Regions from separate parts of the Homo sapiens genome. Here all the other regions are reported to be linked to region 1. The links are microRNA targets in miRTarBase. Many come from high-throughput screens and were not tested one by one. Region 1 holds a microRNA gene; each other region holds the end of a gene's coding sequence.
The links. The annotated mature microRNA hsa-miR-514b-3p reads AUUGACACCUCUGUGAGUGGA and lies in region 1 at 2,145-2,165, opposite strand. An mRNA with a match to its seed (bases 2 to 7 or 8) in the 3' UTR can be bound and repressed. Matches are read on the target gene's strand: a 7mer-m8 pairs with bases 2 to 8, a 7mer-A1 pairs with bases 2 to 7 and ends in A, and an 8mer does both.

Region 1 (3,259 bases):
AGCATAGCTTATTCATCTAATTTGTTAGGAACAGGGATGGATATTTTCATTAAGAAAGATAAAACACGGCAAAAACTGGATTTATCTTTATCCATCATCAAATACATAAGTAATGGCATGATGATGGTGGTTTCAATAACTAATACCTAGGTATAGCTTTCATCACTGACTGTAAAAGGAAAGAAGGCAGGGTTGAAGGCAGGCCTCCCTCTCTAGCAACGCAGAGAAAGGTGGGGTTTTCCTATTTTTTGAGATGAGGACTGCTACTTAATGTCAACCAACAACTAGAACGTATTGCTGGTTTTAACCCTCATAATAATGTAACCATGTAAAAATGGGGATATACTTTAGCCTCAAACCTGGATGTGGTCCAGTAAATGAAAATAATTTAAGTATCTATATGTACGTACAAAAATTTAAACCTGCTATCTAATTTTATACCCAGTGGCTCAACCTCAAGGAGACATTAGTAGACAAACATAACCAGACATCGTGATGTCCTCTGATGAGGGCTGAAGATCCTGGATGCAAGTGCACTGGATTCCAATCCAGATCCTTTTCACCCTTCCGACGTGAATACTTGTGTGTTTTGTCAGAGCCTCTTTGTTTTGTGAGCAGGGCCATTATCAAAGCTCTACATAAGGAACTGTGAGCTGTGAGCTGAATCAAATGTTTAATACATTCTAGTGCTGGATTTAGAAGAAAAGAAACTAAGGGAGGGCAGTGAGTTGATGTAAAAAAGGGGACACTGTAGAGTGGCTGCCTGGGCTCAAATACAAGCTCTGCTTCTTGATAGCTGTGTGATCATAAGGCATTTATTAAAATTATTTTTCTTGTCTTATTAGTAAAATGAGAGTGGATATAACAGCTCCTACTTCATAAGGTTCTTGTAAAGATTCACTGAATTCCTGTGCATTAAGAGCTTAGAATTCATCACATAAACAGAATAAAAACAAAAACTACATGAACGCTTCTACACTGCTGGTGGGAGTGTAAATTAGTTCAACCATTGTGGAAGACAGTGTGGCAATTCCTCAAAGACCTAGAACCAGAAATAGCATTTGACCCAGCAATCCCATTACTGGGTATATACCCAAAGGATTATCAACTGTTCTATTATAAAGATACATGCACGAGTATGTTCACTGCAGCACTAGTCACAATGGCAAAGACATGGAATTCACCTAAATGCCCATAAATGGTAGACTGGATAAAGAAAATGTGGTACATATGCACCATGAAATACTATGCAGCCATAAAAAAAGAATGAGATCATGTCCTTTACAGGGAAATAGATGGAACTGGAGACCATTACCTTCAGTAAACTAGCACAGGACCAGAAAACCAAATATGGCATGTTCTCATGCATAAGTAAGTGGGAGCTAAATGATGAGAACACATGGACACATAGAGGGGAACAACACACACTGGGACCTATCAAAGGGTGGAAGGTGGGAGGAAGGGTAGGATCGGGAAAAATAACTAATGGATACTAGGCTTAATACCTGGGTGATAAAATAATCTGTACAACAAACCTGCATGACACATGTTTACCTATATAACAAACCTGCACATCCTGCATATGTACAACTGAATTTAAAATAAAAGTTAAAAAAAAGACCAGAAAAGACCAGAAATAATTACCAAAAAAAAAAAAAAAAGGAGCTTTAATACCTGGGAGAAAAAAAATACTTTGGTCTTTAGTAGGGTAAGGATCTGAGAAGGGAGGGAACTGATGGATGCCTAAGGGGAAAATCTTAAAAATGAAGAGGAATGTCGATAGGTGGTAAGTTAAGAGATTTGCAGGCTACGGTTGGGAATAGGTTCTTACAAAAGAAAAAACACTTTATAGGTGACAGGAACACCATGAAGACAGTGAAAGGCTTGTTACCATTTTGGTCAAGCAACTTTGGCAAAAGGGATCTGAATCTCAGAAGAAACTCAATGGGAAGTTTTTCCTCAGACTTTCAGTTTCTAGGTCTTACGTCTGATAATTAATTTAGAGAATTAACTGAGCTAGTCCAGAACAGGGAGGGTGTCAGTAGAAATGTCTGCATTCTAGGGAAAGTATTATACTGCTTGCAACTTAACACGCCCCGTGTATCCACCATGCCATGTCATATGATGTATATATCATGTGTTACTCCACTCACAGAGGTGTCAATCATATCTAATTACACATGATTGCCTCCCTCTTGAGAAGAGTACCACATGAAGAATAGAACACTTAAGGATGGCAGCCCAGCCTAATGACTGACTCATGCACCTTTCTTTTTATATTTTAAAAATATGTAATTGACAAACAAAATTTGTATATATTCAAGGTGTGCAATGTGATTTGATATGTATATACATCGCGTACTGATTACCATAGTAAAATTAACTAACACATCATTCACCGCTCTTAGTTACCATTTGTGTGTGTGTTGTGGGGGTGTGGTGAGGACACTTAAAATCTGCTCTCTTATCAAATTTCCAGTAAACAATTACAGCATTATTATCACTATGCTATACATTAGATAGCCAGAGCTTATCTATTACGTAACTCAAAGTTTGTACTCTTTGACCAACATGCATCTTTCAAAAACACATCATTGTTTTCAATCTGATTGGTGACTGGTGTTCATACAAAGGGCCTCTGTAGCATGCACTACACTGTCTTTCTTCATCCATCCTTTCCTGTGTTGTCCAATCATGGTTTGGAGTTATGACATGGCAATTTTCAGAACTATGAACCATTAAGCTTTTCTGCTAGACTCTCTTGTGCACGGAAGAAAAATCCTTGCATGTCTTATCCTGTTTATTTTTTCCATTATTATAAAGTGTTAGAAAGCAGTTTACATTCCTCAGGTCTAATAGTTAACAGGAAAATATACTCTATGTCATCTATGCTCGTCACCTGAAGATGAGTCCCTCTACCTGAGTTACATCCCTCAACTCCTGAACCACAGAATAAGCAGGGAAAACACACAAGATTCTAGGATAGGATGGTAATCACTGATGTGATGGAGAGTAGAAATGTCTGTTTCTCCTTAAATCCTAGAGCAAAAATAAAAATATTTTACTTACCAGGAATGAACTGCAAAACAGAAAATGTTCTTGGCATCTATGGATGCCATTAAACTTCTTCCAGTTTGTGAGATTTCTGAGTCTTTCCCTCGAGCGTGGTCTTTTCAAGCATTTTTGTTTGCATTTTTCTCCATTTGGAAACATGCAACTATGTGTCTTCATTTTCCTGGATGAACTAAATCTGGGACAC
Region 2 (3,259 bases), not on the chromosome of region 1:
AAAAACCCTGAGTCCCATTAAGAACAAAACCCAACCTTGTAACAGGGCCCTGCAGGATCCGGCCCCGCCTCTCCCATCTCATGTTCTGCTCCTCCCCCTTGCTCACTAATGCCGGCCACACCAGCCTTGCTGTCGGGGATGTTTCTTCTTCGCCAACTTCGCACGCCACAGCCTGCCTGGGATATACTCTCTTCATCTCCTGTGTTTCTGGTTTTCCTTCACATCTTCACTCATCACTGTCTGAAACTGTCTTATGTTCCCCAGGAAAGTAAGCTTCATGTTCCCCTCTATTAGATCTCCAGTGCCCGGCGCATAGTGAGTACTAGTGTATTAGTCCGTTCTCACACTGCTGATAAAGACATACCCGAGACCGGGTAATTTATAAAGGAAAAGTTTAATAACTCACAGTTCAGCATGGCTGGGGATGCCTCAGAAAACTTATAATCATGGCAGATGGGGAAACAAACACACCCTTCTCCACGTGGCAGCAGGAAGTGCCGAACAAGAGGGAAAAGCCCCTTATAAAACCATCAGATCTCGTGAGAACTCACTCGCTATCACGAGAACAGCACGGAGGTAGCCGCCCCGAGGATTAAATTACCTCCCACTGGGTCCCTCCCATGTCACGTGGGGATTACGGGAACAATTCAAGATGAGATTTGGATGGGGACACAGCCAAACCCTATCAACTAGGGATTTGTTGACTTAATGCACACGAGCCAACCATACCCCAACAAAGCAGGTACTAGCCTTATAGTACACGTGAGGAAACTGAGGAATGAGGCATCTCATTCATGTTGGGAATATTAATTGAAAAACCTGTCAGCTCCTGTGGCCCTTGGAGTTCCTTGAAAATAATGTTATACGCCAATACTTATTATAGTACTGTAAAGATGCACCATATCCCATATCTCATTTGTCAGTGGAAAGAACACAGATTTGGAGCCAGGTAAAAGTACCTCTTGCTACCTGTGACGTCTTGGACAAGTTCCCACCTTTTGGGGCCAGTTTCTCCATCTATAAAATGGGGATAATGCCTAACTTAAGAGTTATTTTAGATCCAATATAAAAATTCCCAGCCCAATGCCTGGCATGCAGTAAGCAGGCAATTATATTATTTTTCCTCTCTACTAGTCACAACTACCCAGGAAGGGAAGTTTTCACTCATTCCTGGCCATCCGCCCCATGCTGGGCACTTGGGGCATGCTGACTGTGGTGAATGAAACAGACAGGGTACTGGTCCTACTATTATAGAATGTTTGCTTCATAAGAACAGGCACTGACTGTATCATCTCTGAACACAATGGAATGAAGCTGGCAATAACAAAAGAAAAATTGGAACATTTACAAATGTGTGGAAATTAACAGATTTCTAAACAATCAAGGGGTCAAAGAAGAAATCACAAGGGAAATTAGAAAATACTTTGAGATGAATGAAAACAAAAACACAAAATACCAAAACTGAGAGTGTGTGATGACAACAGTGTGCAGAGGGAAATTCATAGCTGCAAATGTCCATATTAAGAAACAAGACAGTAACTATGTGAGGTGATGGGTGTTAATTAGCTCAGCTGTAGCAATCATTTCATAATGTATATCAAAACATCCCACTGTATACTTTATACTTTTTTATAAAAATAAATATTCTTACAAAAGGACAGGCGCTGTGTCTGTCTGGCTCACCATTGTACCCAATACCCAACAGGGTGCCAAGTACCCAATACCCAACAGGGTGCCAAGGAACACAAAAGGCACTCAAAATATGTTTGTTGATTGGAGTTTACAAGGAAGAAAGGTATTTTCTTATCCCTCTCTTCCCTTCCCACCCAAACATAGCTTCTTCTAAGAAAAGAAACTGAGGCTGGGCAAGGTTAAAAGCTAGCTCCTGGTACTTTTGCATCCACACTCAGTTTACCTGTGCCTTAAACCAGACTTCATCAAACTTCAGTCTTCACAAGTCACTTCACCATTTTTGCTCTACCTACTTACTGCCTGTGATAGAAATCAACTCAGTTTGTTTAGCGGTATAAACTTAAAAGGAACTTTAGATCAATCACTTGTCTTAGAAGGTAACCACAAAAATACAAAGCAATAAAAATAAAAACATGTTAACATGAATTTCAGTTGCCTGAAAGCTGTAAGTCTGCTTTTTTAAAAGAGAAATTGGAGTTAAGCAGACTTTTCATTTTTTGATCATGACCCTGAAAGAGAAATATATTTGACATCAAAACTCAGCACATATCCTTGGTCTATATATACACGTGAAAGTTTCATAAAACAATACACTGATATTTTCCATGCTGTATTCTATTTCATTTTTTAAAATGCTGGTTGTATCCCATTAAACTGGTTTCAAAATAAATATAACATGTACACAACAACAACAAAAAAAAACACTGGGTTAGAGGGCCAGTAAGCTCAGCGAGTATCAGCAACTGAGACTTCATCCTTGTCTCACAAGGACTAAAAAGAGAATAATGTTCTCATTATGTGGTTCAATGCCACACCCATGTATCTGAGATATACATGTCACAATCTGGGAGAAGCCTGTCCTCAATTTACTTTAAATACCCAATTCTGCCTAGAACATGACTTAGACACATAGTAAGCTCTTGAGTGAAGTGCAGATGATAATGACACGATCACATACCACTTAAAAATATCTTAACACCTTTACTTAGATCTCATCTCATACTTGTAGCATTTCTTCAAATTTACTTTGAAAAAAGAGCTTCACTGTGTGTGGTTGTCATACACATTCTTCTACCCAACCATGGACCTCTTTCTTCCTCTCAGGCGCACTTCATCTAATTTTTTTAGCACTGGCCTGGCCTTTTTGGAGGAGGTGGAGTAGCTCTTCAGAAAGGCTTCAAACACAGTTTCAGTGTTGGGATGGGTACTGAGGAAGGCCTTCTCCAGGACATAGAGGTCTACTCCCTTATCCTCTGGAAGTGCTGAAATGAAACTCAGCCCAAAGTCTATGAGCACAATGTTCAGCTGTTCCAGGGGGGGTTTCAGGAGCATGTTGGAGGTGGTGAGATCACCATGAATGAGGTCTTCATCGTGCATTCGAGCCAAAACCTGCCCAATTGTCTTGGCTAAGTTGGAGAGACCCTGGGGAGTTTTTTCAGTCTCCATAGTGGACTGAATATAATCTCGAACAGTCACTGAGCCTTCAATTTCTTCCATATATAAGCAGTTGGAAGCATAGTCCACAAAAAAGACAACTGGGGCAGATATTCCTGAAATCAAGACATAA
Region 3 (3,259 bases), not on the chromosome of region 1:
CTCAACTTCATTGAGAACCACACTTTTCACCTGCTGAAGCTGAAGGGAGTATTGCCCTCACCTCCTGCTACCTCACCTCCTACAGGCAGCTGATGAAGTCCAAGTACTCAGATGTCACCACCATCTGAGACGCAGGTGCCTGTGCTATTGGAGGCAAACTTTCGGGGGAAGAACATCCTCAGGGCAGTGATAGCATTGGTCTTGCAGATGATCATGTCGTCCCTGGTCACCAAGCCTTCAGCCCACACAGACCTGGCCAAACAATCCTCTGCCACCCCTCCTCAGTGGCTGGGAGCTCAGGCTCTGGCCTATCATGGCTCCATGACTGATCCTGGCTGTGTCACTGGGCAGCTTTTCTGGCCTCTACAATGGGAACACTACTGCTTCCCCGCCAGGGTCCTTGAGGGCAAAATCAACACTAACACTGGGCTTGCCCCTCCCTCCCTCAAAATAAAGGCAAGATGAACTCTCAGAGGAACAGCAGCAGGTAGAGGGGTAGCAAGGATCAAGTGTGGAGAGCAGACTCTAGATGAGAATGTAACACAGCAGATGACAGGATGTGCAAGTCAGGAGATCTAAGAGTTCTCCTTCTGCCAGTTACCACTGGGACACTTCAAATCTTTGAGATTGTCTTCTCATATGCAAAGCGAAGATGGCTGAATACCCTTACCAACCTCAGAAGGCTGTTTGGGTGGAAGGGACTGAATGACTTATTGTATGCAAACACACTTTGTAAAGCACTTTAGAGACAAGTTATTATTGTCGCCATCATTATTTTTAAGGAAGGTGAATCATGGAGAGGACCCTTAGGGCCTTGGGGCAATCAAATAAAGAATGGTCACAGACTTCATACAAGTCAAACCATGTTTCCTAGTCTACTTGCCAGTGGGAAAAACAAGAATGAAAGAAAACTTGCTGAGAGTGACTGTTTGAGGTCTAGAAAGAATAGCTGGGAAAACCTGTAAGGTTGAAAGGTGTTCAGCTTCTCTTAGGGTTTTATTTGTAGCAGAGATGGGATCTCACTATGTTGTGTGGACTGGCCTCAAACTCCCGGGCTCAAATGATCCTCCCACCTCAGCCTCCCAAAGTGTTGGGATTACAGGCATGAGTCACTGCGCCCAGCACTCTTAGGCTTCTTCAGAAATATACTTTCCCCAAAATTTCCCTAAGATTTGTTCCACCTAGATATTACCCAAAAGGATTTGGCGGTAAAATCGATGTGGGTACAGGCTTCCTCAACAAGGAATGCTTGGACACCTGAGTAATGAATTTCCAATGAGGATATGGGATGCAGGGAGTGCAACATTTATTTCATAACAGAACCCCTTTTCCACAGAGCAGCTGACAGGGGGCTGCATGAAACATACTTTGGAAATTAAAGTGAACTCTCCACTTGGGCATAATGTTATGTGGGCACATGGATTGGCTTAAAAGGGAAACAAGAATACTTCAACATTTGATCAACAGTAGGCAGTTGCTGGACATTTTAGAAAAAGGAGAAATCCATTTTTTGACCATGGCTAAACATGGGGAAACAGCATCACATTTTCCTGAACCACCCTAATCCCAGCCCCTCAAGATCCACCAGGTATGCAACCCCAAACCCCAGTCACATACATTAAATCTACACTTTTATTTTTTTGTTGTAAAATGTGCTTTTTCCTCAATGAACTTTAATCAGTCCAGGACCTACAAACACACACACACACACACACACACACACACACACACACACACACCCCACCCCACCCCCACCCTCCAACCAGGTGAAAAATCCCCGGCGATTAGTCTATAACAAATATTGACACGAGGGGGGACAAAAGCATGTTGAAATGTATTAGAATCAGAACCTGTACAAAAAAAAAAAAATTAAAATATAACCTGAAACTGTTCAAGTTCAGAAGTCTAGTTAAGTCTTTTTCTCTTGCCAGGAGAATGCCATCATCAGAGGGCTCTGGGTCATCAGCCAAGGAGGGGTGAAAAGACAGAAGCAGCAACAGGTCCTTCAGCAGACAGAGGGGCATCGATGCCACCATCCCTACCCAGGTGCAGCCAGGAGGAGTTAAAGATCTTGGGAGAGCAAGCATTAGCCGGCAGTTCCAGTGGGCAGCTGGGGCCTACACACCGAAAACAAGGCTGAGTAGTCAGAGGCAGCAGGAAGAGTGGCCAGGAGAGAACGCCAAGCCGGAAGGAACCATTTCTGCCACCCAGCAGACCCACAGCACCCTCTGTCTGTGCTCAGATACCAGAGGTTAGTCAACCCAGCGCTCTCAACTAATTGGAGATCGGAGCTGGGCTTAAGAGGCTGAAAACCCGTGGGTTTAGTAAACACAGCCCAGCATCACGTCCCTCCACGGCCTGAACTGGAGCTGCCAACAAGGGATGAGGCAGGAGAGGGAAAGCAGCGCATCTTGACGCCTGGCTAGAAATCACTGCACCATCGTGAGGACTGTGGTACCAGGGGCTGGAGAGGAGTGCCCCCTCCTCACAAGGGGAGGGGCCTCCTTCACAATCATCCCTGGGGGCTGGTTAAAGCTGCCTCCGGCTTATAACCAGCCTGACAAAATGACGTGGAGCAAAAGAAAAACTGGGAGGGAGACAAGCCCTTACACAGAGACAAGAACCTCCTGGAGGGAAGCTGGGCAGTGTCTGACCCTGTTTTGGGATGGCATTGGTGGAGCCCCTGAGTCTGAAGGGAACAACTGGGGAAGGAGGGAGTGGGTGAGGGGGAGTAACAGTTTTTCTGGAACAGTACCAACAGGGTGGGGAGGCGCTGGTGAGGGGACGGGCAGGTCTGGAACTCACTGCAGGTAGAGAGGGGAGGAAATGGGCCCTTGGTGTCCCCTCCCCACCTGACCCAGGCCTGGTGAGTGCCAGCTGCCCCAGCCGGCCCTAGTGGCGGCTGGAGACCAGACCTTTCACTTTGGACATCTTCTTGGTGGGCTGCCTCTGCTCAGCGTGAGGGGGACACTCCCGTTCAGCCAGCTGCTGCTCCATCTCCTGAGCCGAGGAGGATGCGGTGGCTTTGAGTGTCTTCTTGATGTTGGTAACCTGGTGGGGAGATATAGAATTGGAGTGCTCAGCCTGTATGTGCTCACCAAAACTTGCTCTCACTATGTCTTCACTTCAGACAGGAAGCTAAAATCCTCTGCAAGAAAACCTGAAATTCTCTTCAGAAATCCAGATGAGCAGAAACGAGCCTGGGCTACTCACAGCAGATTTGTGGAAATGAGTCAAGCAAAAATGTGGGACTAATGCT

Region 2: the mRNA of TP53RK is a reported target of hsa-miR-514b-3p. Seed matches in the 3' UTR shown: 7mer-A1 at 2,218-2,224.
Region 3: miRTarBase lists COPS7B as a target of hsa-miR-514b-3p. Seed matches in the 3' UTR shown: 7mer-m8 at 1,802-1,808.

The regions. Positions count from the first base shown.
Region 1 is chrX:147,248,017-147,251,275 of GRCh38, forward strand. MIR514B (microRNA 514b) reads right to left here and starts at 2,214; the gene lies at 2,135-2,214. All of the region lies in intron 2 of LOC105373347 (periphilin-1), which reads left to right.
Region 2 is chr20:46,683,990-46,687,248 of GRCh38, forward strand. TP53RK (TP53 regulating kinase) reads right to left here. Exons shown (of 2, transcript NM_033550.4): 2 at 376-3,242. The coding sequence ends at 2,764. It also overlaps a transcript of SLC13A3 not described here. Among named protein-coding and RNA genes, the nearest start is that of TP53RK-DT, 3.7 kb to the right of the region's middle.
Region 3 is chr2:231,807,279-231,810,537 of GRCh38, reverse strand. COPS7B (COP9 signalosome subunit 7B) reads right to left here. Exons shown (of 7, transcript NM_022730.4): 7 at 1,285-3,051. The coding sequence ends at 2,893. It also overlaps the pseudogene GAMTP1. Among named protein-coding and RNA genes, the nearest start is that of COPS7B, 22 kb to the right of the region's middle.